7 linked regions of the Homo sapiens genome follow. The protein of the gene in region 3 purifies or fractionates together with the protein of the main gene of each other region. This does not show direct contact. Each region holds a gene or a part of one and is shown on either strand. Other genes may lie near its edges.

Region 1 (4,193 bases), on a different chromosome or scaffold from region 3:
CTCTCCCCTGTGCCTCCCCCTCCACCAGCCAGCGCTGCCCTCTGGGGCTCTCCCTTCCCTGGACAGTCTCTGTCAGGTGTGGACACGATTGGGGCATGTCCCCCTGGAATTTTCTCCAAGTCAACCCTTGAGTGTTGGTTTCTCCCCCTGGACACAGGAGGAAGATCCCCAATGATTTAATAATCATAGAAATGATGAGGATTGGCCAGGTGGCTCAAGCCTGTAGTCCCAGCAATTTGAGAGGCCGAGGCAGGTGGATCACTTGAGGTTAGAATTTGAGACCAGCCTGGCCAACATGGTTAAACTCCGTCTCTACTAAAAATACAAAAATTGCTGGTCATGGTGGTGGATGCCTGTAATCCCGGCTACTCGGGAGGCTGAGGCAGGAGAATTGCTTGAACCTAGGAGGCAGAGGTTACAGTGAGCTGAAGTCATGCCACTGCTCTCTAGCCTGGGCAACAGAGTGAGACTCCATCTCAAAAAAAAAAAAAAAATGAGGATGACGTTTCTGCTAATAAGCAGTAGGCCCTGGGCCAAGAAGTGGTGAGGCTTTTCTTCCTTCTTTAGGGAAGTGACATCACTCACCAGCATCCCTTAGCTTGTAGGATTCAGAGCCAAGATTGCCCCCAGAGCCCCCGCTGTTGGCCAGGTCTCTTTCCCCTTTCCCTGTCTCTCCCTGGCCCCAGGGGACAGGATAGAGACTTGAGGGAGGGCAGACTGAGTTTTCCTTCATAGCATAAGGAAGAGCTGAAAAGTCCCCGGGCTCAGTGGCTCACGCCTGTCATCCCAGCACTTTGGGAGACTGAGGTGGGCAGATCACGAGGCCAGGAGATTGAGACCAGCCTGGGCAACATGGTGACACCCTGTCTCTACTAAAAATACAAAATTAGCCGGGCGTGGTGGTACACGCCTGTAGTCCCAGCTACCCAGGAGGCTGAGGTGGGAGAATAGCTGGAACCTGGGAGTCGGAGGTTGCAGTGAGCCAAGATCACACCACTGCACTGCAGCTTGGATGACAGAGCGAGACTCTGTCTCAAAAAAAAAAAAAAAAAAAAAAAAAAAAGAAAAGAAAAAAGAAAAATACTTAGCTTCTTTTCGGGCCAGGTGCGGCAGCTCACACCTGTAATCCCAGCACTTTGGGAGGCCAAGGTGGGCAGATCACGAGATCAGGAGATTGAGACAATCCTGGCTAACACAGTGAAACCCTGTCTTTACTAAAAATACAAAAAATTAGCAGAGCCTGGTGGCACACGCCTGTAATCCCAGCTACTTGAGAGGCTGAGGCAGGAGAATTGCTTGAACCCAGGAGGCGGAGGTTGCAGTGAGCCGAGATTGTGCCACTGCACTCCAGCCTGGGTGACAGAGCGAGACTCTGTCTCCAGAAAAAAAACAGAAACGTCCCCAGGCCAGGGCAGAGGTTGGGAGATGGAGCGTGGGCACGCACAAGCCCCTTCCTCCCCGGCAGCATTTGGGACAACATGGCAGGGGGCCTGTGGCCAACTGGGCCTCTGCGAGAGGAAGTGAGGCCAACTCCTGGCTGGGGATTCACAGCCTCAAAGTGTTTCTCATCTTGGTTTCTCATGTTGGTGGCTTCAGGCCTTTTTTGGAACCGTCTGCTGCCTCTTTATAGTCATGTATTCAACTGGTCATCACCGAGCCTGTGCAGGCGCCCCATGTGTATTCAAACAGGCCCTGCCCCTACCCGCATTTCCGCACAGAGTTTGCAGACTGGTTGCAGGGACAGACAGCAGGCAGGTAAACCACTGGCTAAGTGGTTTTGGATAGTGGTGAAATGTTGTGAAGGAAACAAGCTGGCAGGAGAATGACTGCATAGGCTCATTCAGTGGGGTGGCCAGGGAAGCCCTGTGGAAGAAGGACATTCTGCCAGGGACTTGAATGCCACGGAGGAGCCAGGCCACGAAGATTGTGTCAGGGCATGGGTTCCTGGGACACGGGGCAGCACGCCTGAAGGCCCCGGGTTGGCATGTTTGAGAAGTGGAAGGTGGTGAGGGTTGAGAGGTCACCGGGGCTACGGTGAGTGTCTGGGGTTCCAAAGCTGCGGGATGCCATGATCAGTCACTTGTTTTTATTTATTTGTTTGTTTGTTTTCTTTTTCTTTTTGAAACGGAGTTTCGCTCTTGTTGCCCAGGCTGGAGTGCAACAGTGCGATCTCAGCTTCCTGTAACCTCCACCTCCCTAGTTCAAGCGATTCTCCTGCCTCAGCCTTCCGAGTAGCTGGGATTACAGGCACCCGCCACCACATCCGGCTGATTTTTGTATTTTTATTAGAGACGGGGGGTTTCACCATGCTGGCCAGGCTGGTCTCTAACTCCTGACCTCAGGGGATCTGCCCGCCCCAGCCTCCCAAAGTGCTGGGATTACAGTGCCCTACTGAGCTGGGGTTTCTGCCTGGGGCATTTGGTGATGGTGGCGTCCCCATGATCATGAGGAACTGGGATTCGTTGAGATTTGGGGAGGCAGTTCTGGCATTCCAGGTCACATTGATCTCAGCAGGTGAGTGCAAGGTGGATGCCAGGAGACCGTGAGCCGTTGCTGGTGGGCAGGGGTCCGGGCTCTGGAGGCTGCAGGTGCCAGCAGGTCTCACGTCCCCTCCTTTCCCACCTCCCAACCACAGTGATCAACAAATACAAGCGCAGACGATTTCAGAAAACCAAGAACCTGCTGACAGGAGAGACAGAAGCGGACCCAGAAATGATCAAGGTAAATGGGCAGGGTTGTCAGGGCCTATAGGGACCAAGCCAGGCCATTCACAGCTCATCCCAGACCACTGGGGCTGTCATCTGTCACCACCACTGAACCACCATGCCGGCTCGGTCATGCCACCTCCCCTCCCTGAGCACTGGGCTCCTCCTCTGGGAAATGGGGTCAGGAGGCAGCTGTCTCTCAGGGAGTGAGGAGGATCCCAGACAAGGTTACCTGAGCCTCTTGCCAGCCTGGGAGGGGTCTACATCACAGTCCCATTGTCACATGAGGACACTTGCTCAGTCTCAGCCGGAAGTGGCAGGCCAGGGACTCTCACCCACACAGCCAGGCCCCAGAGCCCAAGCTCAGCCTGGCTCCAAGCACACACACGAGAATATGGCTTTAGTAGGAACTGCAGGATTCATAGTTGCTGTCACTCCCAGTGGGCTGGGGAGCCGGGCAGTTAATCTGTGGTTAACCTGCAGTGGGCACTAAGAGACTTCCTCTCTCTGCGGGTGGTCCTGTGTTGGGGGGGTGGTCCCTGCTCATGGAGCTGAGGCCACCGTGCAAGAGTGTGTGGAGCCTGCTGTCATGAGGCTGGGCTTCGCAGCCTGGCCTAGGATGCCAGCCCTGCCTCTACCTCTACCTCGGTTTTCTACATGTGGGGTGGGAGGATCCTGTCGGTGGCCGGAAGGGTCCTGGGTGGCGGAATCTCTAAGCCTAGGGAGGAGAGCCTTCTGCCAGCAGTTGCTGTGGTGGCTGATATTCTGCTGCCAGGGTTGTCAGGGGAGATGGCTCATGCCTGTTTTCCCAGCATTTTGGGAGGCCGAAGCAGAAGGATCACTTGAGCCCGGAAGTTCAAGATCAGCCCAGGCAGCATAGTGAGACCCCATCTCTTCCAAAAAAGAGAAAAAAGAAAGAAAGAAAAGAAGCTGTCCATGGTGGCTCACGCCTCTAATCCCAGCACTTTGGGAGGCCGAGGTGGGAGGATCGTGCTTGAGCCCAGAATTCGAGACCAGCTTGGGCAGCATAGTGAGACCCCATCTCAGAAAAAAAAGAAAGCAAAGATTAAGATTTTCTCGGGAACCCTGGGGAGGAAGTGTACAGAGAGTGATAGTCCCCGAGCACTTCCACCTGCCTCTGAGGTCCTTCCCCCCATGTTGCCTCAGAGGGCTGAGGACTATGGGCCTGTGGAGGTGATCTCCCATTGGCACCCCAACATCACCATCAACATCGTGGACGACCACACGCCGTGGGTGAAGGGCAGTGTGCCCCCTCCCCTGGATCAATGTAAGCTCCCCAGCCCTGCCAGCTGCCTGCAGAGCCTTTGAGAGGGTGCTCGGGGTCCATCTCCTTGTCTTCTCCTGGCCCTGTCCCCCTGAGAGAGCTTTCCAGGGCTCCACCCTCCCAAGCTCCCACCCTGTCCTATCCCCTTCCCATGTCCTCTCCCTCTCCCACACCACCACCCCTGGGGACCCCAGGACTGACTT
Region 2 (4,193 bases), on a different chromosome or scaffold from region 3:
GGAGTTTTGCTCTTGTCGCCCAGGCTGGAGTGCAGTGGCGTGATCTCGGCTCACTGCAACCTCTGCCTCCCGGGTTCAAGCGATTCTCCTATGTCAGCCTCCCGAGTAGCTGGGACTACAGGCGTATGCCACCACGCCCAGCTAATTTTTTGTATTTTTAGTAGAGATGGGGTTTTACCGTGTTAGCCAGGATGGCCTCAATCTCCTGACCTCGTGATCCACCCGCCTCAGCCTCCCAAAGTTGTTTTGTTTTTATAGAGCTACAATAATCCCTTTTCTTTATTTTCCATTTCTTCCTACTTTTTTCTTTCCCTCTCTCGTATATTCTTAAGTGTATATACAGTATCTTTTTTCATCTCTCTTGTCACTCTCTACGTACTGCTCTTGATGAACAAAGAGATGTCAAAAAGAATGTGAATGGTATAAGAATTATAGGTATTTATATACTGTAAAATGAAAGTAATTATGTTACCTGTCCCAGGTACCCAGAAAAAATTCAGGCCTCACTTCATCGAGCACACTGCTTCCTTCCAGCTGGCATTGTGGCAGTGCTAAAGCAGCGCCCCAGATTGGTGGCTGCAGCAGTCCAGGCATTTTACCTACGAGACCCTATTGACCTGCGAGCTTGTCGTGTTTTCAAGACATTCTTGCCTGAAACACGAATAATGACATCGGTGAGATTTCTATCTTGGTCATTTAGTTTCTCTTACTGGAAACCGAGTTGAAACATTATTATTTTTTTCTTTTTACATTTCTCAGTGCTCAGTGAATGAAACATTATTTTAATTGTTCTCTAGAAAAAAAAGGAAATATTCTGTTTCTTCATAGCATGTTAATATAGATTGAATATTCCTTATCTGAAATGCTTGGGACTAGAAGTATTTCAGATTTCAGATTTATTTGGATTTTGGAATATTTGCATTAAACTTACTACTTGAGCATCCCAAATCTGAAAATTCTGAAATCTCAAAACTTTGAGCATATCGTTGGGACTCAAAAAGTTTTGGATTTTGGAACATTTTAGATTTCAGATATTTACATTTGGGATGCTCAAACTATACACGTTTTTTCTTTTCTTGCACCCAGTGAAGGAAATTTTCAAGAGACCTGCCTCCCCATTTTATACTCAATGTTTTATAGCTATTTTTGACCATATGTTTCTATTTCTATAATTATTTCCTTTTTTTTTTTTTTTTTTTTTTTTGAGACAGAGTCTCACTCTCTCACCCAGGCTGGAGTGTAGTGGAGCCATCTCAGCTCACTGCAACCTCTGCTTCCTGGGCTCAAGCGATTCTCCTGCCTCCCGAGTAGCTGGGATTACAGTCACCTCCCAACACGCCCAGCTGATTTTTTTATTTTTAGATGGTGTTTCGCCATGTTGGCCAGACTGGTCTCGAACTCCTGACCTCAAGTGATTCACCCACCTCAGCCTCCCAAAGTGCTGGGATTACAGGTGTGAGCCACCGCACCCAGCCTAATTATTTCCTTCTTAACAATAAAACATTTCATCTCTTCCAGAGAATTAAGAATTATTCTTGGCCGGGCATGGTGGCTCACACCTGTAATCCCAGCACTTTGGGTGGCCAAGGCAGGTGGATCACTTGAACCCACGTGTTTGAGACCAGACTGGGCAACATGGTGAACCCCATCGCTACAAAAAATAAAAAAATTAGCTAGGTGTGGTGGTGGGCGCCTGTAATCCCCGCTACTTCGGAGGCTGAGGTAGGAGGATTGCTTGACCCCAGGAGGTTTGGGAGGCCAAGGTGGGCAGATCACCTGAGGTCAGGAGTTTGAGACCAGCCTGGCCAGCATGGTGAAACCCTATCCCTGAGGCTTCAGTGAGCCATGATTGCTCACTGCACTCCAGTCTCTGCAACAGAGCAAGACCCTGTCTCAGAAATAGAAAAAATGAATTATCTTTATCTTCCAGCCATTTAATTGCTGTATAATGTAACTAATGATAAGAATTTTACTAGCGATTACTAAAAAGTAGGCAGTAGGGTAAAATTTTTTTTGCAACAGTGTCTTGCTCTGTTGCCCAGGCCGGAGTGCAGTGGAGCAATCTCAGCTCACTGCAACTTCCTCCACCTCCCGGGTTCAAGCAATTCTCCTGCTTCAGCCTCCCGAGTAGCTGGGATTAGAGGCGTGCGCCACCATGCCTGGCTTATTTTTGTATTTTTAGTAGAGATGGGGTTTCACCATGTTGGCCAGGCTGGTCTCAAACTCCTGACCTCAGATGATCTGCCCACCTTGGCCTCCCAAAGTGTTGGGATTACAGGCATGAACCACCATGCCTGGCCAGCAGTAGGGTAAATTTTATGGTATGTGAGTTGTATCTCAATAAAGCTGTTACTAAAAACAAGTAGGCAATGAATAGGTTGAATCTTCTTTGCATTTCATATGAATATGAAGCTTATAAATGGACTTCTCATTATATTTAACTGTGAAGTGTTATTCACAATCTTAATTTCAGGAAAAGACTCATGTATTTTGTGTCTTGATGCCCAGGTCACATTCACTAAATGTCTATATGCACAATTGGTGCAACAAAGGTTTGTGCCAGACCGGCGGAGTGGATACAGGCTGCCTCCTCCATCTGATCCCCAGTACCGAGCCCATGAATTGGGCATGAAATTGGTAATGTTGAACCAGAAAATGTTGTTTCCTTTCTTTATGTAAATGGACTCTTAATAGAATAGTGGCACAATATACAAAGTCCAGAAATACACCCTGTTTATGTAAGAATGCAGTAAAATGTGGCATTTCAAATTAGAATGAAAAAAATGGATTACTTAGTAAGTGATGATGGGACAAGTCTGAAGTCATCTGAAAAATTGAAGTTGATTCCCTAATACCTATACCAAAATAAATTCCAATTGGATCAAATATTTGAACATAAAAATTGAAACTATACAATTTGAAAAAAAACCAAGAACCTTTTATAATTTGAATAGGAAAGGCCTTTCTATGCATGACTTGAAACCAGAAGCTATAAAGGGAAGACTGATGAATTTGATTATGCAAAAATTAAGCATTTCTGCACGGGAAAGAAAAACTCCATAAATAAAGTCAAAAGCAAATCTGGAAAAAGTGTTATATTTGCAATCTAAATGAAAAAGAGCTGACTTCTCTAATACATAAAGTGTTCCTTTAAGTCAATATGAAAATGATAATACTAGCCAATTAATTTTAAAATGTTCAGAACTATGAACATAGTCCACAGAAAAGGAAATACAGGTGACCTTTAATTTAAACATATGAAAAATATTGAATCTTAACTCATAATAAAAGAAATGCACTTTAAAGCTACAAAATAGTGTTTTTCTTTTTTTTTTGTTTGCTTTCAAAAATGTTACAATCTAGACATTGATAGGAATGTCTAGATTTTCTTTTTTTTTTTATTATTATGCTTTAAGTTTTAGGGTACATGTGCACAACGTGCAGGTTTGTTACATACGTATACACGCGCCATGTTGGTGTGCTGCACCCATTAACTCGTCATTTATATTAGATATATCTCCTAATGCTGTCCCTCCCCCCTCCCCCCACCCCACAACAGGCCCCGGTGTGTGATGTTCGCCTTCCTGTGTCCGTGTGTTCTCATTGTTCAATTCCCCACCTATGAGTGAGAACATGCGGTGTTTGGTTTTTTGTCCTTGCAATAGTTTGCTGAGAGTGATGGTTTCCAGCTTCATCCATGTCCCTACAAAGGACATGAACTCATCATTTTTTATGGCTGCATAGTATTCCATGGTGTATATGTGCCACATTTTCTTAATCCAGTCTATCATTGTTGGACATTTGGGTTGGTTCCAAGTCTTTGCTATTGTGAATAGTGCCACAGTGAACATACGTGTGCATGTGTCTTTATAGCAGCATGATTTATAATCCTTTGGGCATATACCCAGTAATGGGATGGCTGGGTCAAATGGTATTTCTAGTTCTAGATCCCTGAGGAATCGCCACACTGACTTCCACAATGGTTGAACTAGTTTACAGTCCCACCAACAGTGTAAAAGTGTTCCTATTTCTCCACATCCTCTCCAGCACCTGTTGTTCTCTGACTTTTTAATGATCGCCATTCTAACTGGTGTGAGATTACCATCTCATTGTGGTTTTGATTTGCATTTCTCTGATGGCGAGTGATGATGAGCATTTTTTCATGTGTCTTTTGGCTGCATAAATGTCTTCTT
Region 3 (4,193 bases):
AATACTTCAAAGTCAAGTAGATCTGAATATAAATTCTAGCACTTTCCAGCCCTATGGTCTTGACCCAACTATGCAACCTCTCTGAACCTTGTTTCCTCATCTTTAGAATGTAAATGACAGTGAGGTGCAGTGGCTCATGCCTGTAGTCCCAACTGCTCAGGAGGCTAAGGCGGGAGGATCACTTGAGTCCTGGAGTTGGAGGTTACAGTGAGCTATGATTGTGCCACTGCACTCCAGCCTGGGCAATAGAGTGAGAAACCCTGCCTCTAAAAAATAAATAAGCTAGGTGAGGTGACTCACACCTGTAATCCCAACACTTTGGGGGGCTGAGGTGGGAGGATTGCTTGAGCCCAGGAGTTTGAGGCCAGCCTGGGCAACACAGCAAAACCCCATCTGTACAAAAAATTTAAAAATTAGCCAAGTGTGGTGGTGCACATCTATAGTCCCAGTTGCTTGGGAGGCTAAGTGGGGAGGATCGCTTGAGCCCAGAAGTTCAATGTTGCAGTAAGCTATGATCATGCAGCTGCACTCTAGCCTGGGTGACAGAGCAAGACCTTGACTCAAAAATAAGAAAATAAATAAATAAATAGATAAATAAATGACAAAGCAAGGCTGCCTGGCAAAGTTGTTGCAAGGATGGCAGTAAGTGGCTCTGTAGGCACATAACAGTTGCCAAAGGAGGTGGGGATAAGGTCAGAAGGCTTCCTGGAGGAGGTGAGATGGAGCTGGATTTGAACAGGGAGTCATGGATGGGATTTCTGGTGGAAAGAGAGCCCTGAGAGAGAGGCACAGTAAGAGCAAAGGTACAGAGTAGAAGGGAACATGGGCTGGATTTGCACAGGAGAGCCTGGAAGCCTGGCCAGGGAGTGTGGATGCTGTCTCTGGGGCAGAGCCTCTGGAGATGTCTGAGTCACAAAGGGACCCAGAACCCTGGAGTGATGAAGTCCAGGCAGTGCCACGGTCTCCCTGGCACTCCACTCGGGTGGAGGGTGGATGGAAGGGTGACAGGGTGTTCTAAGAGTTGAGGCCAGCGGAGAGGAGGGTCCAAACCAAGGCACGACAGGGAGGGGAGGCAGGGGATAGACTGGGCTCCACAGGGCAGAAGCCCATTTGTGAAATCAAAAGCAGCCCACTGAGGGATGCAAGGCCCATCACCCTTCCCTCCCCTAAGGGCACTGTGGACTGGGAGGGGGCCAGAGACCCTCCAGGCAGAGCTCCTGGCCCCCAACCCAGCAGCCCGGCTCTCCCTTCCAGCTCTGGGGCGCTGCTTTCCATGGACCAACGTTACTCCACCGGCGCTCCCAGGGATCACCAATGACACCACCATACAGCAGGGGATCAGGTAGGCACCTCCCTCCCCCACATCCTGGCCACACCCCTTCCACCCACAGCCCCATCTGACTCTGTCTCCCCAACAGCGGTCTTATTGACAGCCTCAATGCCCGAGACATCAGTGTTAAGATCTTTGAAGATTTTGCCCAGTCCTGGTATTGGATTCTTGTGTGAGTCACCAGATTCCCCTCCTCTTGTGTCCTTGCCTTCTTCCTCCCTGATCCTCTACCCCCTCGCCCAATGTCTGAAACACAGGCTTTGGACAGAGGAGGAGGAGCCAGAGCTCCGAATGGATTCCAAGACCAACAGGATTTATAAGGGAAAGAGGCCTAATCTGGGGACATTGGGTGGTGTGTGGAAAGGCAGGGAGGGCCTCTGTAAGGGGAAAGATTTGAGGGGCTAGGGCTGAACCTCACTGTCCTCACCCTGCCTACAGTGCCCTGGGGGTGGCTCTGGTCTTGAGCCTACTGTTTATCTTGCTTCTGCGCCTGGTGGCTGGGCCCCTGGTGCTGGTGCTGATCCTGGGAGTGCTGGGCGTGCTGGCATACGGCATCTACTACTGCTGGGAGGAGTACCGAGTGCTGCGGGACAAGGGCGCCTCCATCTCCCAGCTGGGTTTCACCACCAACCTCAGTGCCTACCAGAGCGTGCAGGAGACCTGGCTGGCCGCCCGTGAGTGTCCTGCCCACCCCCAAGCCACCAGCTGCCCAAGGACCGCCCTGGGCCATGCCCGGCCCCAGCCCTGGCCCTGACCTAGGTCTGTCTGCCCCGTCCTCTGCAGTGATCGTGTTGGCGGTGCTTGAAGCCATCCTGCTGCTGATGCTCATCTTCCTGCGGCAGCGGATTCGTATTGCCATCGCCCTCCTGAAGGAGGCCAGCAAGTTAGGGCCTGCCTGGGAGGGAGATGGGGTTGAGGACAGCGTGGACCCAGGAGTGCTAGGGGACCTAGGGGGTGCTAGAGAGGTGGCAGGGAGCCTCAGAGGAGAAGGGAGGAATATAGCACAGTGGTGAACACTGCTGTGGCTTTGCTTCCCCATCTGTAAAATGGGGGTAACAATAATTCCTGCCTTCTAGGGTTGTCTTGAGGATTCAATGAGTGCCTGGAATATGACATAGGCCTTCTAGAGGGGTTGGTGGGAGTGGTGGTGGCTGAGTGGAACGGCAGGAATCCGGGCCAGGAGGGGCAGCAGCTTGCTCCCGATCAGGAACTGCCACACACACCTGCCAAGGGATCACGCTTGGGGGTGATCTTCCCTTACTCCACCCGAAGCTGCCCCAGGTGGCTTCTCTGTGACCCCAGTTTCCTCTAAGGGTCCTGTGAGCCTGATTTATTCAGTTCTGTTTATCCAGTGAGCACCTACAGTATGCCTAGCCCTGCACCAGGCCCTGAGGACACAGATATGAAAGACAATGTCACTAACCCTGTTGGTCCCACCCTGGGGGAGTGGGGCAGGCCCCAGTGAGGGCAGAGGGGTCAGCCCCCCCCTTTTTTTTTTTTTGAGACGGAGTCTCGCTCTGTCGACCAGGCTGGAGTGCAGTGGTGCGATGTCAGCTCACTGCAAACTCCGCCTCCCGGGTTCACGCCATTCTCCTGCCTCAGCCTCCGGAGTAGCTGGCACTACAGGCGCCCGCCACCATGCCCGGCTAATTTTTTGTATTTTTAGTAGAGATGGGGTTTCACCGTGTTAGCCAGCATGGTCTCGATCTCCTGACCTCGTGATCCGCCCGCCTCAGCCTCCCAAAGTGCTGGGATTACAGGCGTGAGCCACTGCGCCCGGCCGGGGTCAGCCCCTTGAGAAGATGGACAGCTGGGGCGGTGCCGGTTAACAGCTTTGTCTCCCTGCAGGGCTGTGGGACAGATGATGTCTACCATGTTCTACCCACTGGTCACCTTTGTCCTCCTCCTCATCTGCATTGCCTACTGGGCCATGACTGCTCTGTATCCTCTGCCCACGCAGCCAGCCACTCTTGGAGTCCTGGGGGGTGATGGAAAACAAAGCAATACTTGCCCTGTAGAGTGCCTTGGTGTCACTGGAAGAGGTGCCCCTTTCTCTGGGCAGACACACCAGCACTGTGCCTGAACAGAGTTGAAAGGGTGCACACAGGCTGAATTTCAGCCCTCTCTGTGCAGCAAACGATCTGCACAAGCACCTAGGAACAGGTCCCTAAGGAGCGAGTGACCTGTGGAGACCTCGTGTGATCATGCTTTCCTTGACTCCCCTCTGGGTACCTGGCTACATCGGGGCAACCCCAGTATGTGCTCTGGGCATCCAACATCAGCTCCCCCGGCTGTGAGAAAGTGCCAATAAATACATCATGCAACCCCACGGTAAGAGGAAGCAGGGGACATGGAGGCGGGACTAGTAGGGGTGAGGGGCTGTAGGGGCCACATTCCTCATTGTGCAGAGAAGACTGAGGCCACAGAGGGCAAGAAACTTGTGCAAGGTCACACACTCAACCCCCAGCAGAGCTAGAAGAAACCAGTTCCCAGAATACCTGGTACTCCTGTTGAGCCATCCATCATGTGGGGAGGGAAACTGAGGCTGGGAGAGACAGCCCTGGATACCAGGACTTACTCCACCCCTCCCCAGGACATTGCTCTGACTTGAGGACCATCAACCACTTCACCCTCTGAGTCTCAGCCTACTCCTGTTTGTTTGTTTGTTTGTTTGTTTGTTTGTTTGTTTTGAGACAGGGTCTTGCTCTGTTGCCCAGGCTGGAGTGCAGCAGTGCAATCTCAGCTCACTGCAACCTCCATCCCCCAGGCTCAAGCAATCTTCCCACCTCAGCCTCCTGAGCAGCTGGAACTACTAGCGTATGACACCACGCCAGGCTAATTTTAAGCTTTTTGTAGAGGCAAG
Region 4 (4,193 bases), on a different chromosome or scaffold from region 3:
TCCCTCACTCTTCTGTTCATCTTCCAGAGAAGCTCATGTTCAAGAATGCGCCAACCCCACAGGAGTTCCGGGAGGGGGAAGATGCCGTGATTGTGTGTGATGTGGTCAGCTCCCTCCCACCAACCATCATCTGGAAACACAAAGGCCGAGATGTCATCCTGAAAAAAGATGGTGAGACCTGAATTTCCTGGCATCTGCCTTTTCCCCAGGCCACCAAGTTCCCTAGCTTTTTCACCTGTACTGAGGCATTCCAGTCCAAACTCCAATTCATGTGTGCCCGAACCCTCATGTGGTTTCTGGGTCCTGAATAGATGCATATCTGAAGTTGGTATACTTAGGTACCTGATTTTCTCTCCAGTACGAAAGACAAATTTCTAATAGACATTTACTCTTGGCTGTATTTCAAAGCCAGGGACGCATTTTCTTATTTGGGCTTAAAACCCCACCCTATGATACTGAAGTTAGGAAAAAGGAAAGAGACTCAGCCACCTGCCTGCAGATGCTCTCTGACTGATTCTTGGATGAACCTGCCTCTTATCTCTTCTAGTCCGATTCATAGTCCTGTCCAACAACTACCTGCAGATCCGGGGCATCAAGAAAACAGATGAGGGCACTTATCGCTGTGAGGGCAGAATCCTGGCACGGGGGGAGATCAACTTCAAGGACATTCAGGTCATTGTGAATGGTGAGGAGAGTCCGTTCTTCCTGATCTCTGCATTGCTACAACCTTGGTTCTCCAAAATCATTCTCTTTAACTTCCTCTTGGGTCTGTAAATTAAATCCTGTCCTGACTCAATCATCCGTCTGAGCTAAATCCCCTCCCCACCGTAACATCTAGATTTCTTTTTTTTTTTTTTTTTAATATACTTGCCTGTTGGATCTTCCTTCAACTACGAGGGATTTTAGTGCAGCAACTGAATGTCCTTCACCGTTCTGCAGCACTAAAAACTTTCCCCCTGCTTACCTATTAATCCTCATTGTCCTTGATGTTACCATAATTGTGAAGTTATTCCGCTGCTTAAATGTTCAAAGAAAGTATTAAGTCAACTCAGGCCTCAGAATAGTCAGAATCATGGTCCATAGGCTTGTTAATCTTAACTTGCAGTGTCAAATAAACACACCCATGGAATTGATCTGACATTTACAAGATGTTTACAGGAAATTATAATGTCAGTACTAAGAAAATAAGTAAATCAGGGTTGAATTGTTTTGACTATTGACACATATTTTTTTTGCCAAACTCTCCCCATCTCATTCCTTTGGTAAAAAACAGTTTTGTACAAGGTTGTTTATCACAGTCCCAGAGAAATGGCACTCTTTGTTATAGCTGATGCATTCGAATTGGTGTTAACCATTTAACCACTGGGAGCAGTAATGTCCAACTTTTTCCAGTACAAAGAGCTCCTTTTTAACATCAAGTTTCACTGAACCTGGTAGTTATTAAGTTTAGTATGCATTGACTGAGAAAATACATAATGAAGAATAGTGACTATAAATTGAATACCATCTTAACATGCATAAAATGTATTACTATAGCTTCTCAATTAATGAAAAACAAAAATGCATGTTTGTAGAACTGTCTATTCAGTTTGCAGAAGTTATTTAGTACATACATGAATTTCAATTCCTGACACTAACTCTGTAGCTGCACACGACGTTTGTCCCACAGGCTGAGAACTCCTGACCTGGAGTGGTGTCTCTTCTCCAGGCCATTGGGTTCTTCCAAATTTTCACAACCACCCCATGACACCCTTTTTTCCTTCAGTGCCACCTACCATCCAGGCCAGGCAGAATATTGTGAATGCCACCGCCAACCTCGGCCAGTCCGTCACCCTGGTGTGCGATGCCGAAGGCTTCCCAGAGCCCACCATGAGCTGGACAAAGTAAGAAACTGGCTCATACCTTTTATCATGGACTAGAGGAGAATGGGGCATCACAAAGTCTGCTCCATGTTAGTGTCTGCGTGGAATGGATGTGGGCTTCTTAGGAATATTAACCCCAGGAGAAGAATGGACTCTTTTCTATAAGATTCTCTTGCTTGTGCATTGATTATTCCTTCAATTTCAGCCTTGTGGGGGCAGAGTCAGAGCCAGAGGGTGTGGTCTTGGGAGCCCACTTTGAAACATTTGTGGGTACAGTTGCAGCCCTTGGATAGTCAGAGGATGGAATAGAGGAATAAGAGGTGTATGTGGACGTTCAACTTGGTGCCTTAACTTTTTGTGAAGACTGAGGAGTCTTTCCCATTGACTCAGTCTGCATTCTATGGAACCTAATTAAAAATAAACGTCTTATTTCTGTGGTCGAAATCATGCTACTTTGCATTTCTACATGCTCTAGGGATGGGGAACAGATAGAGCAAGAGGAAGACGATGAGAAGTACATCTTCAGCGACGATAGTTCCCAGCTGACCATCAAAAAGGTGGATAAGAACGACGAGGCTGAGTACATCTGCATTGCTGAGAACAAGGCTGGCGAGCAGGATGCGACCATCCACCTCAAAGTCTTTGGTAGGGGCAGTGGGGGCCCAGGTCACTGCTCTGCCACAATTCCCCTTCCTCTGCACATTCAGTCCATCAGTAAGACCCTGGCCACTGTCCCTCAGAACATAACCCAATGCAACCATTTCTTGCCAGTTCCACCACCTAGTCCAAGCCCTAGTCCAAGCCACCATCATCCTCACCTGAGCAGTGGGACGGTCTCATAGCTGGCCTCCCCGACTCTCCCTATTGGTCCACTTCATTCACTTCTGCTCACAGTAGTCAGAATGACCTAAGTACCACTCATCTGTTTGAAAGCCTCCAGTGGCTCCCTATGGCAACCAGAATAAAATTCAGACTCCCTGCAATGGCCTACAAGACCAGAGATGAACTAGCTCCTGCCTTCTTCTCCAGCCTCATCTTTCTTTCGCTTTGCTGCACATGCAAAGTTCTCCAACCACACAGGCCTTCTTCATGTCCCTCAGACATACCAAGCTTGTTCTTCATCTCAGGATCACTGCCCTAGGTTTCTCTTCTGCTTGGAATATCTTTCCCTCTGATCCACTCTGAGCTGCCTTCTTCTGATCCACCATTCAGATCTTAACTCAAACTCACCTTCTCAGCGGCGCCTTCCTTCACTGCCCTGGCTAATTCAACTCCCTCTGCACTGCGACCACCCCCACCCACCTCCACTCATCTCTCTCTCGTGACTCTTACTGTATCTTCTTTGCTGTACTTAACAGTACCTGAACAGATGTCATTTGCATATTTGTTTTGGGGATTGTCTGTCTCCTACCTCTACTAGTGTGTAAACTTCAAGATAGCATAACCCTGGCTGTCATACACGGCGTTATCCCTGTGACTCCAAACAGTGCCAGACTTGGCATAGGCCCTTGGTAACTTTAGTGGTCGATGGGCTGGCTGCTTTGCCTTGTTTGCCTCCTTCCCTGACCTGTGCAAAACAGTGTCATGGAAGAGCCCCCACATCCCTGCTCACTTCATCTTCATAAACTCAGGAAACTTCCATTCATTTCAGAACTGAAAAGCATTTTGACCTGATCTTGAAAAAAGAATTGGTTGCAGAGAAACGTTTAACCTAATGGCCCTCAAGTCTCTCCGCGTGTCTGTTTAGAAAACACAGATAAACTGGTCTACTGTAGACAGCACTGGGGAAGTGCCAGTCTGAGGCGCAGCTCTGGTGCATGGAGCCCCCAGGTCATTAAAATGTGCACCTGGGAATCAGGGTTGGGACCTGCTTATCCAGCCTGATAAGGAGAACTGTTCATAAACACAGACCTTTGAAAATCAAGACTTTATATGCAAATGTCCTGCTAGTTATTCAGTAGTAAACAGCTGGGTTTAGAAACAGGCTATCAGTTAGGTTCAAGTTAACCGTACGTATTTGAGAGAGAAAGCTAAACTTCATGAAAAATATTCTTGAAAGTCTTTTCTTGAATTCAGACTGATCTTCCCCAATCACTATGGTTTTAGTAAGTTTTTCCATATTGTAGAAAAAGATAGATGCATTTGTTAATTAATCCCTTCATTTAATAAATACGTATGGATCACCATTGTTGCTGGACAGAGGGGCTACAGAGATGAATAGGATATGATCCCTTGACCCTGGGAAGCACAAAGAGGGAGATAAATGGATAAACATAAATGTTATAATAGTGTCAGTCAGCAACATTTGAGTGACTGCTGTGGACTCAGTCA
Region 5 (4,193 bases), on a different chromosome or scaffold from region 3:
TGAACCTGGGAGGTGGAGGTTTCAGTGAGCTGGGATTGCACCACTGCACTCCAGCCTGGGTGACAGAGCAAGACTCCATCTCAGAAAAAAAAAAAAAAATGAAATGGAAAGTAAGAAGGCAGAGAGTCCCCATTTTTCATGGCTTTGATTCTCTAGAACCTCACATTTCAACACGGCTCTTGGTGGAGCTTTATTTATTTATTTGTTTTTGAGACAGAGTTTCGCTCTTGTTGCCCAGGCTGGAGTACAATGGCGCGGTCTCACCTTACTGCAACCTCCGCCTCCCAGGTTCAAGCAATTCTCCTGCCTCAGCCTCCTGAGTAGCTGGGATTACAGGCATGCGCCACCACACCCAGCTAATTTTGTATTTTTAGTAGAGATGGGGTTTCTCCATGTTGGTCAGGCTGATCTCAAACTCCCAACCTCAGGTGATCCACCAATCTTGGCCTCCCAAAGTGCTGGGATTACAGGTGTGAGCCACTGCGCCTGGCCTATTTTTTTTTTTTTTTTAAAGAAAATTCAAGGGAAGATTGTCCAGTACTCTCGTATTAGACACTTAGAATGGAAAAAGCAGAGGTGAAGATTTGGAGTTGGTAAGACTGTCACTTTCTGAGTTATGTCGTGAGTTCCTACAGAGGGCCTTTGGATAGGAAATCTGTTTGAGCTACTCTGCGTCAGCACTTTGAGCTTGCTGGTATATGTATATATTGATGGCTGGTGTAGATATATTGCCATCTAATGCTCAGAACACACTTGTATTGCAAGAAAATATTTTTTTGCTTGTTTTTTTGAGACATAGTCTTGCTCTGTTGCCCAGGCTGGAGTGCAGTGGTGATCTTGGCTCACTACAACCTCCGTCTCCCGAGTTCAAGTGATTCTGGAGCCTCCCAAGTAGCTGGGACTACAGGTGCATGCCACCATGCCCAGCTAATTTTTGTATTTTTAGCAGAGATGGGGTTTCACTATATTGGCCAGGCTGGTCTCAAACTCCTGACCTCGTGATCCACCCACCTTGGCCTCCCAAAGTGCAGAGATTACAGGCATGAGCCACTGCACCTGGCCTCAAGAAAAATTATATATCACGTGGAATAGGATAGTAGTCTCTGCACTGATTTTCGTTGATAATGGCTGTTCTTCTTATCACCATTTTGCTATTTCTTTGTCTGGGCTATTACAGGGTTATTACAGAAATTTCCAGAAAGACCCCTGCCTGTCGAATGTTTACTTCAAGCTTGAGCTCCTGGTATATTATGAGGAAATTATATGATACCCCAGGAGAGGTCTTCCTTTCCCATGCCATTGTAAAATTCCTAAAGTAAAATTAATTTGCCTTCTTGTCAAAGAAGGAGCCAATGTTGTTTTAAAATTTTAGCTTGAGAGATAGGTGGGGAAGAAATTAAATAGACAAGTAATCACTATTCAGAAGAGAAGGGAGAGTCATTGTACGAGGCCCAAGATACTTGCCCAAAAATATCGCAGAGAAAAACTAGTCTTTGGGGTCCTATTTTTTGAGTGGAACATTTGAGTTATTTAAAATTAGAATTTTATTTTGGTCAGATTAGAATTTCTAGGGTATGTCATATGTGTTTTTAAATTGAAAGCTCTTAAAACTCCTATTGTAGTTTAATGTCATTATCCATTAATTTACATAAATCTGATTTGGATCTCTATTTTCATCGTAGACTGTGTAGGGGCAATTTTTCCTAAAGGTTCTGTGACATAGTGCTACCTTTTTTTTAAAACCTGTCTTGCCCAGGCATTATTGAGTGCCCCCTGGTGCCAGCATGTGTATTTCACGACTGTATCAACAAATCATGATCATCTTCTCTGGCCATTGTGCCCTTTCAGATTCCAAACTTGTTACCTCTCAGTCCTTCCTACAAACTTAGAAAGTCTAATATCTTAATGTTTACTTATGTAGCAACCTCCCTTTCTCCCATCCCTAAATCCTCTTGTAATTAATTATTTTCCTTTGGAACTTTTTAAATCTACAATTTCCTTATAATATGGTAACCAATATTAATTTTCTTGTTCTGCGCCAAGTTTGATTTTATACAAATTGTTTCCAGTTTGGGTCATGAGCACAAAACCAGGTATTTTTAAAAATCTATATAACCCTTCAATGAGGCAGTATTAATTTTATTAACTCATTAATTCAACCAATAATTCTTGATTGTTTACTGTGTTAGATATTGGGGTATCCCCAATACCTGACAGCTGTGAGCAAAACAAATGCCCTACACACATGAGGTGTACAGTCCAGTAGAAAAGATAAACAATAAGCAAATTAATAGATAATATGATGTCCAATAAGGACTTCAAAGGAAAATAAAGCAGAGTAAAGAGCCAGAGAATGACAGTGAGCTGTTTTTCACATGAGTCATCAGAAAAGGCCTCTTTAAAGAATTGACATTTGAACAGAAAAACGAATCAAGGGCGTCAACTGTTTATTGCTTTTATTGCTTACCATTTGACCAAGCAATTCTACACATAGGATTCACCCTAAAAAAAAAAAAAAAAAAAAAAAAAAGGATTGTATATAGTGTTTAAACACTGAACAGCCTAAAATGTCAAAAATAAAGGGTTGGGCAAATAAGTTATATATACTATAACTATTTTTTTGTTGAAAGAGTTTCATCAACAGAAGGATAGGGAACACTGCATTTATTGTGATCACTCCCTATTTAATGTTTGTTTTTACATGTTTATAAATGCATAGGAAAAAATCCAGAAGGAATATCAGAAGTAATTTTCTGTGTGTTGGGGAGATGAAGATCACTTTGGTTTTTTTTTCCTCTTTGCTATCTGTATTTTGACGCTTTCTGCATCAAACGTGGATTGTTTATACACTTTAATCAAAAGCAACAGCTCTGACAACCCAGGTTATGCATTAGCTACAATCCTGTATGGATTATTCTTTTATTCTAATGGGCCAAGAAAATGATGGATATACTTTTGCAGCCCAATTGCAGAGGTTACACATCGATACTGAGAATCTCCGGGAGGAGAAGGACAGTGAAATCACAAGTACTAGAGATGAATTGCTTAGTGCCCGAGATGAAATTTTGCTCCTTCATCAAGCAGCAGCAAAGGTTGCCTCTGAGCGGGACACTGACATTGCTTCTTTACAAGAAGAGCTTAAGAAGGTGAGAGCTGAGCTTGAGCGGTGGCGGAAAGCAGCGTCTGAATATGAGAAAGAAATCACAAGTCTGCAAAACAGTTTTCAGCTTAGATGTCAACAGTGTGAGGACCAGCAGAGAGAAGAAGCAACAAGGTTGCAAGGTGAATAAATGTATTTTACATAAAGCTGTTAACTTTTGACAATGATAACTTCTTAACTTGTTTAAAAAAGAAACATGCAGGCTTTTTTTTTCTTTGTTAGCTATCAGTTGTATAAACCAATGTTTTTAAATCGGAGCTAAAAATGTATTTTCAGGTCTGCAAGTTCTACTTAAATTTATATTTTTTTACGGTTTTATATTTTATTTTAAAATTGTTAAAAATTGCTTGTCTTATAAAAGTGAAGTGGAAAAAAATACTATTGTTCAAGTACAAGCTGATAGCAGTCCTTGAGGTATACATGCAAAGTAACAGGAATCATATAATTAACCATGTAAAATCTACTTGCTTTTAAGGGGGCAAAAAGTATGTTCTCCTCTGAAATCTTTTCCTTTATCCTTTGAAGTATTATGGAAGTTATATTTCTGTATTAACAAATATGTTTTGGGACTATTTTAGGTGAACTAGAGAAGTTGAGAAAGGAATGGAATGCATTGGAAACCGAATGCCATTCTCTAAAAAGGGAAAATGTTTTGCTATCATCAGAACTGCAACGGCAAGAAAAAGAATTGCACAAGTATGCAAGAACTCTCTGTTTTTCAGATATAAAATATTTCTTTATCTTAAATTTTCATCTAAATTAAATTTAATTTTAATACTTAAATATTTTACAGGAGCAAATGTTCAGCCCATCTCTGTTTGGCTATTTGGCAGGTTAACCATACTGAATAAATACTTCAGCTTTTTTTTTTCCTGCCACCACCATTATCCTACATGTCCTTTCCTTGTACTCATGGAATACAGATTCATTAAATGTCCCAAAGAAACCCTGAACAAACAACAAAAGTCTGTAATTCATAGTTGAACTTGCCCTGTAAACTAATAAATTTCAAATATCAACTGCTTTTCTTTCA
Region 6 (4,193 bases), on a different chromosome or scaffold from region 3:
CTAATAAAACAGGAGGTTTTAAGTTAATAGCCTGTGGGTCTCAAAAAAGCCTATGTTTTACTTCACATTTACTTCCAATTACCCAGATTACTCATGGCCATGCTTAGCCCATGCAGTATTTCTGATTTTGTGACCTACATATGTTTCAGCTGGTTTTTAGTATACTGGGAATTAAGTAGCCAGATTTGAGTGGGTTACAGAACGCCTCTTTTCCAGCTTTTACACTAAGCCACAATGACTATTTTTCTCTTTACAAAATATGGTATTGAACATCATTTACCATTCTTTCTTCCTTTTAAGTTATTGATGAGACAGAGGAATAACTGTTTATTGAATTATAGTTTATGAAGGAATTGCTATTATATATTATGTGGAAAACAAAACCTGTGGAGTCTTTGGCTGCCTCGCAAAATACCACAGGGGATAGCTTTGGCCTTGACGGCAAACTGTATAATACTTGGTGAGGTAGATTAGGCCAAACCATAACAGCTTTTTCCACAGTTGGTTTTAGTTTTGAATGGATTGTCATATATATAGATAATTTTATGTTAGTATATACAAGTGTAAGAAATTTCCCTACTGAAAAAGGAGCAAATCAAGCAATATTTCAGGAGTAAATCATCTAGTGGCATCTATATTAATATTAAGGAAACACATAGCTTACTCTAAAAACAACTCTCACATTTCATTCTACAACCATTTGAGCACTGATTTAGCCAGATACTTTCCTAGGTGCTAGGTATTCAACACTGAACAAGACAGACATTCACCTCAGGTACAGAGAATCATAGTTGGGATGAGGGTGGATAAAAAACACAACAACATATTTTACAAAGATGGGATAGCTCTGGGGTTATGGACCTGCTCTTCTAGATGGAGGGAGTAGGAGACATTTCTCTGAAGGGACGCCTCTAGGTGAGATCTGAATGATAGAAGGAACTAGCTTAGGCAAAGAGCAGAGGGAAGATTATTCCCAGGAATGGGTATGGCATATGCATAAGCCCCAGTTTGGAAAGGAGCTTGGTGTACTTAAGGAGCAGAATGGTGACCAGGGTCAAGCATAGTGAAAGGGAATGTAGGATGAGCTGAGTAAGAGGGGCAGGCTGAAGCCAGGTCATGCAGGGCCTGTGGCCACAGGAAAGAAGTTGGAAGTGATCAGCACACACAAGGAGAAGGTGACCCTTAGGAGAGGAGATTGGAGAGGGCAAGAATGGATGAAGTGAGTTGAGGCTTAGAGTGGTAGCTTGTGTCAGGTGGCAGCAGTGGGGATGTGGGGATGGAGAGGCTGAGTGGATTTTAAATATGTTATGAAGGTAGGCTTGGCCAAGGTGAAGGAGAAGAAGGATTCATTAATAAAAACTTACAAGTTTCTGGTTTGAGTACATGATGGATCTTGGTACTTGTTATTGCCTTGGGCAAGAGAAAATTAAGGATTCTGTATAAATCTTGTTGGGTTTGAGATGCAGACTTTGTAGAACTGTCACAGTGGATGCTGTATTAGTCCATTCTTGCATTGCTATAAAGGAATACTTGAGACTGGGTAATTTATAAAGAAAAGATGTTTAATTGGCTCATGGTTCTACAGGCTGTACAGGAAGGATGATGCTGGCATCTGCTTGGCTTCTGGGGAGGCTTCAGGAAACTTATAATCATGGTGGAAGGCGAAGGGGAAGCACATAACATCACATGGCCAGAGTAGGAGCAAGAGAGAAGGATGGAGGTGCCACACACTGTTAAACAACCAAATCTCCTGAGAGATCACTCATTATCAAGAGAATAGCACCAAGTGGATGGTGCTAAACTATTCATGAGAATCCGCCCCCATGATCCACTCTCTTTCCACCAGACCCCACCTCCAGCATTAGGGATTACAATTTGTTAGGAATAATGCTTACAATTTTAAGAAATTGAACACTTGAACAAAGGATATTTAGCAAAGCAATTTTATTTTTGCGCAGAGAGGTGCCTTTTTGGCCAGTCGCCATGAGAGCACACTTGAACAAAGGAGTACGAGAGCCTTTATTTTTGACGCAAGTCTTGCCCCTGTATCCTTTTTTTATTGGCTGGGGTCAGGTGTATAAACTAATTTTAGTTGGCTAAACATTTGAATTTTTTTAGATAAGGTGGGCACATAGAAGAAAGAGGAAAGGGGAAAGGGTGTCTGTAGTGAGTCAGAAAGTTGTTTTTTTTTTTTTAAATAAGGAAAGGAATGTGAGTTGGTACTGATAATGGCTGGTATTGTGGCATGCCTGCGCATTTAACAAAGGCAGAAAGGAAAAAGGAAAAAAAGAGGGGGTGGTTAACTCTGAATTAAAAGATTGATTAGGCTATTTGAAGGGAAACCTTATCATATCTCACAAATTGAACATACGATTTGGGTGGGGATACAGATTCAAAGCATATCAGATGCATGGAAATGGGTCCCCATGAAGAATTCAGGAACACAAAAAAACCTACAGACAATGTTGAGGTGAGGGGAACACCTAGAAAGAAGGAAAAAGAGAAGAGTACTTGGGGATGAGTCATGGGCCACCCCCAAATTAAGAAACTGTGTTGAGAAGTCAGCCAAAGGAAACTGAAAATGAGTACCAGAGAGGCAACATGAAAACCAAGGTCTGCCATTTTCCAGAAGCCAAATGAGTGTTCAAGAAGAAGGGCGTAGTCTCTTGTATCCCATGTTACTAAGAGGCGAAGGGAGATCAGGTCTGAGACATGGACATTGAATGAAACATGGTGAGGTCATCATGGCCTTGACAATCTGTTCCTGTAGTGGTGAGGGTGGAAGCCAGATTTTAATCGATTAAAGGTACAGTAGAGAAGAAACAGCATGTGTAGAGTAATCTGGAGAAATTTATCTGTGAAGCTGGAGGGTCATGTGAGGTCCAGGGATACTCTTTTTAAAGGGTAAAAGAGAGTAGAGCATGTTCATATGCCAGTGAGACTGTTCTAGGAGAGAGAGAGAAGTTGCTCGTGCAGGAAGGGAGGATGAGAGAAAGAACCAAGTCCTAATAAGACAAAATGGATAGGATCCAAGGCACAAGTGGAGGAATTGGACTGTGATAAGAGAGTTAGACTTTTCCTGTCATAACAAGAGAAGGTGGATGCAGGTGGACACCAGGCTCAGATTTGGTAGTGGGAAGATGAGAGAAAGCACATGGTGGCTTCTGATTTCACAGTGACATATGAGGAGTGCTTGTTAGCTGAGTACATGGGGATGGGAAGATGTGTACGTTTTGAAGAGAAGGAAAAGGAAATGAGCTATTTTCTTAGAGCTTAGAAAGTGCTGGACAGTATTACGTGTCCACTTAGGTTTGGGACTATGAAGCAGAAAGAACTGTCATCTGGTTATGTGATGTTTTTTCCCTGGAGACATTCAGCTGCTCAGTGTTGAGATTTTTGCCGGGTAGGCACAATGAAAGGAGAAAGGGCCAAGGAGTTGGAATAGATTTACAGCAGAGTGATTCAAATGATAGCCACTGAATCTAAGCTCTGTAAGAACAGATATGAATCTGGGAGAGGGGGCAATATTTAGCAAGAAGTGGAGGGAAATAGACCAGTCCTCCTGACCTGATTTTCATTTTTTTTTTATAGTATATATGATCACTGTTTCTTCTCTTTATTTTTTTTTAAGGATGTCTGGAATGGCTGGTCTTTTTAGCATCTCTGGCAAGATATGGGTAAGTAATCTTAAATAAAACGTTTATATTTGCAGAGAGGTTAAGAATAAAAATACAGCTTTTAAGCAATAGGAAAACAAACATTTATAAGTACATTTATAATTTCACTTTTTTTCTTAAGCCATGCAACTACTCTCATGTGGGGTTTCCAGTGGTAATGTCGTCATGTAGAAGGGCATAATCTGAACAGTAACCTGTAACTACTGTGTCGAGGTCTTATTTTCTTAAATCAGTGGTGAAGTCTTTCATCCAAGCAAAACGGCTTATGTGATTTTACTTTATCTTATGTATTTCTTTGTAGGCATATCTCCCTACAAAGGAAAGATTGTCTAAGACTGAAAGTAGTTCTGTATGTCAGGGATTAACAAACTCTAGCCTGTGGATGGGCTACCTGTTTTTGTAAATAAAATTTTACTGGAAGACAGCTACATTTATTCATTACCTATTGTCTATGACTGCTTTCATGCTACAATGGTACAGTTGAATAGTTGTGACAGACACAGAGAATTGTGGTTC
Region 7 (4,193 bases), on a different chromosome or scaffold from region 3:
AGACGGAGTTTCACTATGTTGGCCAGGCTGGTCTCGAACTCCTGGCTTCATGATCGCCTGCCTTGGCCTCCCAAAGTGCTGGGATTACAGGCGTGAGCCACCGTGCCCGGCAGTTCATTCCTTTTTATTGCTGAATACTGTTCTGTTGTTGGATACATCATTATTCGCCAGTTAATAGATATTTGAGTTGTTTCTAGTTTTTGGCTGTTATTGTATGAGTTTTTTTGTGGACATATGATTTTATTTTGGATAAATTCCTAGCTGTGGATTTGCTGGGTCAATAGGGTATTTGTATGTTTAACTTTATGGGATACTTGGCCAGACTGACTTCCAAAGTACTTTTATACTCACATCAACAGTGTATTAGAATTTTCGTTATTCCATATCCTCACCAACATTTTATGTTGTCAGTTTTTAAAGTTTTAGGCATTCTACTGGGTTTATAGTAGTATTTCTTTGTTAATAGTACTTCATAGTGGTTGTAAAGATTAAATAGGTTTTAATTGTCTTTTCCCTCATAACTAATGCTATTAAGGATTGTTTTTTTAATGTGGTTATCGACTATCTCCTTTTGGACTCATGTATTCACATCTTTTGCCCATTTTAAAATTAGGTTATTTGTCTTTTTGTTATTAGTTGTAGGTGTTATTTACCTACATATTCTGGATGAGTCCTTTATGCAGATTACATGTTTTGTGCACATTTTTCTCTCAGTTTGTGGTTTGCCTGTTCATATTCTCAACTTTTTTTGTATAACTGGAAGTTTTTAGTTTTAATCATGTCCAGTTTATTAATTTTAAAAATTTCTATTAGTGTTTTCTGGTTCATGCCTAATATCTTTGTCTACCCCAAGGAGATCATGAAGCTCTCCTAATGTTTTCTTCTGGAAGGTTTTTAGTTTTAGCTTATTAAAATTATGTCCATGATCCATCTCATGTTATTTTTCATGTCCAATATGAGGAAAGGGATTAAGGTTTGTTGTTCCATGTGGATATCCACTTGTTTCAGTATAATTTGTGTGAATGCCTTGGTGCGTTTTTAACAAAAAAATATTGAACTTACACGTGTGGATCTACATCTGGACTTTTCTCATTCATTGTCTGTTTTTCTGTCAATATCGTACTGTCTGGATTAGTGTAACTTTCTATTGATTCCTGGTAGTGTGAGTCCCACATCTTTATTTTTTAAAGATTGTTTCGATTATTCTTGACCTTATTTCTGTATACATTTTGGAATCAGGTGGTTAATTTCTATTTAAAAAGTTCTGACTAATCTTAAGATTACATTGAATCTAAAATTGAATGTGGGGAGAATTGCTATCTTAATAACATTGAGCCTTCCAGTATATGAACATGATGTATTTCTGTATTCTAGAAATGTTTCAGGTTTTCAGTCTTGCATGTATTTTGTTAAATTTATCTGAGTAAATCTACATCTTTTGATTTTTGATGCTCTTAAAAATGGTATACTTTTTTATTTATTTATTTTTGTATGTGTGACATGTTCTCACTTTGTCACCGAGGATGGAGTGCAGTAGCGTGATCTCCACTCACTGCAACCTCTGCCTCCGAGCTCAAGTGATCCTCTTACCACAGCTTCCCGAGTAGCTGGGACTCCGCATACACCACCATGCCTGGCTAATTTTTGTATTTTTTGTAGAGACAGGGTTTCGCCTTGTTACCCAGACTGGTCTTGAACTTCTGGGTTCGAGTGATCTGCCCACCTAGGCCTCCCAAAGTGCTATTACAGATGTGAGCCACTGTGCCTGACCTAAAAATGATATACTTTAAACATTTTCTCTTCCAATTGCTTGTTTTATGTGTGTGCATGTGCATATGCATGGACACACAATGGCACAGTTTGTGTAATTGTTTTGTATTCTGCAACCTTGCTAAATTCACTTATTATTGTAGTTTTTTGTATTCTGGGCTTTTTCTGAGAGAGTGGCTCACTCCATTGCCAAGGCTGGAGTAGAGTGGCGTGATTGTGGCTCACTATAGCCTTGACTTCCCAGGCTCAAGCGAACCTCCCACCTCAGCCTCCTGAATAGCTGGGACTATAGGTGCGTGCCACCATGCTTGGCAAAATTTTTTTTTTTTTCTAGGGACAGGGCCTCACTATATTGCCCATGCTGGTCTTGAACTCCTGGGCTCAAGCAATCCTCTTGCCTCAGCTTCCCAAAGTGCTAGGGTTGCAGACATAAGCCACCACACCCAGCTATAGGATTTTTTTTTTTAGATGTAGATTATTTCAGATTTCCTGCACACAAACATTACCTGTTAATGAAGAAAGTCACAGTTTTTCTTTGCCTTATACAGTTGTCCATTGGTATCTTCAGGGATTTGGTTCCACGATCCCCCGTGAATACCAAAATCTGCCGATGATCCGGTCCATTATACAAAATGCCATAGTGTGGCTGGGCATGGTGGCTCACATCTGTAATCTAGCACTTTGGGAGGTTGAGGCAGGCAGATTGCTTGAGCCCAGGAGTTTGAGACCAGCCTGAGCAACATGGCAGAACCCCATCTCTACAAAAAATACAAGAATTAGCCAGGCATGATGGTGTGCATCTGTAGTTGCTACTCAGGAGGCTGAGGTGGGAGGATCTGCCTGAGCCCAAGAGTTCTAGGCTGCAGTGAGCTGTGATTGTGCCACTGCACTCCAGTGTGAGTGACAGAGTGAGACCCTGTCTTGATAGATAGATAGCCATATAGCCGGGCATGGTGGCTCACGCCTGTAATACCAGCACTTTGGGAGGCTGAGGCAAGAGTTCGAGAAGACAAGCCTGGTCAACATGGTGAAATTCCGTCTCTACTAAAAATACAAAAATTAGCTGGGCGTGATGGCACACACCTGTAATCCCAGCTACTTGGGAGGCTGAGGCAGGAGAATTGCTTGAGCCCAGGAGGTGGAGGTTGCAGTGAGCCGAGATTGTGCCACTGCACTCCAGCCTGGGCGACAAAGCAAGACTGTGTCTCGGGGGGGAAAAACAGCCATATAGTACAGTCAGCTCTTTGTATCTGCAGATTCTGTGTTTGAGGATTCAGCCAATCTCATGTTGATCCGTAATTGGTTGAATCAGTGGATGTGGAACCTGCATATGTGGAGAGCCACTTGTGTTTCATTTTCTTGCCTTACTGCACTGGCCAGAACCTCTATTACAATGTCAAATGGAAGTGATAGAGTAGACATCCTTGCCTTATTCCCAATTGAAGAAGGAAAATTTTGAGCCTTTCACCATTCACTATGATGTTAGCTGTAGGTTTTTCATATGTGCCCTTTATCAGGTTGAGGAAGTTTCCTTCTATTCCTAGTTTGGTGAGAGTTTTTATTATGAAAGTGTTACCTTCTAATGCTTTTTCTTTATCAAGATAATCATAAGATTTTTCTCCTTTAATTCTGATAATGTGGTGAATTACATTGATGAGGTTTTAAGTGTTAAATTAGCCTTGCATGCCAGTATATTATCCTTTTTCTGCTTTGCTAGATTTGACTTGGCAATGTTTTGTTAAGACTCTTTGTTCATGACAGGTAATGGTTTCTTTTTTCATACGTCTTTGCTTGATTTTGGTATCAAGGTTTCCTGGCCTCATAAAATGAGTTGGGAACTGTTTCTTCTCTATCTTCTGGAAGAATTTGTATAAGACTGCATTATTCCTTTAAATGTTCAGTAGCATTCACCAGTGAAGTTTTATGTGCCTTGAGTTTTCTTTGTTGGAAGGTTTTTAACTATACATCTAATAAATAGATTTAATACTGTTCTGATCTTCTGTTTCTTCTTGTGTCAGTTTTGGTGATTTTTGTCTTTTAAAGTATTTCTCTATTTTATCTAACTTTCTTGGCAGAAAGTTGCTTACAGTATTCCCCTGTTACCATTTAAATGACTGTAGAGCGAGGTGCAGTGGCTCAGACATGTAATCCCAGATCTTTGGGAGGCCAAGGCAGAAGGATCGCTTGAGCCCAAGAGTTCAAGGCCAGCCTGGGCAATATAATGAGATCTCAACAATAAAATAAAATTTAAAAATTAGCCAAGCATGGTGGCATGCACCCATAGTCCTAGCTACTTGGGAGGCTGAGGTGGGAGGATCACTTGAGCCGGAGAGGTGGAGGTTACAGTGAGCTGCGATCATCTCACTGCACTCCAGTCTGGGTGACAGAGCCAGACGCTGTCTCAAAAAATAAAATAAGTGACT

The links.
Region 1: the proteins of SLC44A4 (region 3) and CLPTM1 purify together in Homo sapiens (affinity purification with mass spectrometry; one large-scale study listed by BioGRID and IntAct). This does not show direct contact.
Region 2: the proteins of SLC44A4 (region 3) and ECD purify together in Homo sapiens (affinity purification with mass spectrometry; one large-scale study listed by BioGRID and IntAct). This does not show direct contact.
Region 4: the proteins of SLC44A4 (region 3) and NCAM1 purify together in Homo sapiens (affinity purification with mass spectrometry; one large-scale study listed by BioGRID and IntAct). This does not show direct contact.
Region 5: the proteins of SLC44A4 (region 3) and SLMAP purify together in Homo sapiens (affinity purification with mass spectrometry; one large-scale study listed by BioGRID and IntAct). This does not show direct contact.
Region 6: the proteins of SLC44A4 (region 3) and TMX4 purify together in Homo sapiens (affinity purification with mass spectrometry; one large-scale study listed by BioGRID and IntAct). This does not show direct contact.
Region 7: the proteins of SLC44A4 (region 3) and HAT1 purify together in Homo sapiens (affinity purification with mass spectrometry; one large-scale study listed by BioGRID and IntAct). This does not show direct contact.

What each region holds. Positions count from the first base shown.
Region 1 is NC_000019.10:44,982,583-44,986,775, forward strand, and holds part of CLPTM1 (putative lipid scramblase CLPTM1), read left to right. Parts: intron 1-2,635; coding exon 2,636-2,721; intron 2,722-3,872; coding exon 3,873-3,993; intron 3,994-4,193. UniProt on the Homo sapiens protein: Involved in GABAergic but not glutamatergic transmission. Binds and traps GABAA receptors in the endoplasmic reticulum (ER).
Region 2 is NC_000010.11:73,150,737-73,154,929, reverse strand, and holds part of ECD (protein ecdysoneless homolog), read left to right. Parts: intron 1-481; coding exon 482-674; intron 675-2,508; coding exon 2,509-2,637; intron 2,638-3,224; exon of another isoform or gene 3,225-4,193. UniProt on the Homo sapiens protein: Regulator of p53/TP53 stability and function. Inhibits MDM2-mediated degradation of p53/TP53 possibly by cooperating in part with TXNIP. May be involved transcriptional regulation. In vitro has intrinsic transactivation activity enhanced by EP300.
Region 3 is NC_000006.12:31,868,623-31,872,815, reverse strand, and holds part of SLC44A4 (choline transporter-like protein 4), read left to right. Parts: intron 1-1,254; coding exon 1,255-1,342; intron 1,343-1,418; coding exon 1,419-1,502; intron 1,503-1,768; coding exon 1,769-2,004; intron 2,005-2,113; coding exon 2,114-2,213; intron 2,214-3,178; coding exon 3,179-3,271; intron 3,272-3,558; coding exon 3,559-3,661; intron 3,662-4,193. UniProt on the Homo sapiens protein: Choline transporter that plays a role in the choline-acetylcholine system and is required to the efferent innervation of hair cells in the olivocochlear bundle for the maintenance of physiological function of outer hair cells and the protection of hair cells from acoustic injury.
Region 4 is NC_000011.10:113,205,496-113,209,688, forward strand, and holds part of NCAM1 (neural cell adhesion molecule 1 isoform 2 precursor), read left to right. Parts: intron 1-27; coding exon 28-171; intron 172-547; coding exon 548-685; intron 686-1,765; coding exon 1,766-1,883; intron 1,884-2,337; coding exon 2,338-2,507; intron 2,508-4,193.
Region 5 is NC_000003.12:57,909,420-57,913,612, forward strand, and holds part of SLMAP (sarcolemmal membrane-associated protein), read left to right. Parts: intron 1-2,467; exon of another isoform or gene 2,468-2,502; intron 2,503-2,719; coding exon of another isoform or gene 2,720-2,772; exon of another isoform or gene 2,773-2,961; coding exon 2,962-3,282; intron 3,283-3,738; coding exon 3,739-3,856; coding exon of another isoform or gene 3,857-3,923; exon of another isoform or gene 3,924-4,193. UniProt on the Homo sapiens protein: Associates with the striatin-interacting phosphatase and kinase (STRIPAK) core complex, forming the extended (SIKE1:SLMAP)STRIPAK complex.
Region 6 is NC_000020.11:7,995,510-7,999,702, reverse strand, and holds part of TMX4 (thioredoxin-related transmembrane protein 4 precursor), read left to right. Parts: intron 1-3,631; coding exon 3,632-3,677; intron 3,678-4,193.
Region 7 is NC_000002.12:171,928,696-171,932,888, forward strand, and holds part of HAT1 (histone acetyltransferase type B catalytic subunit), read left to right. Parts: intron 1-4,193. UniProt on the Homo sapiens protein: Histone acetyltransferase that plays a role in different biological processes including cell cycle progression, glucose metabolism, histone production or DNA damage repair. Coordinates histone production and acetylation via H4 promoter binding.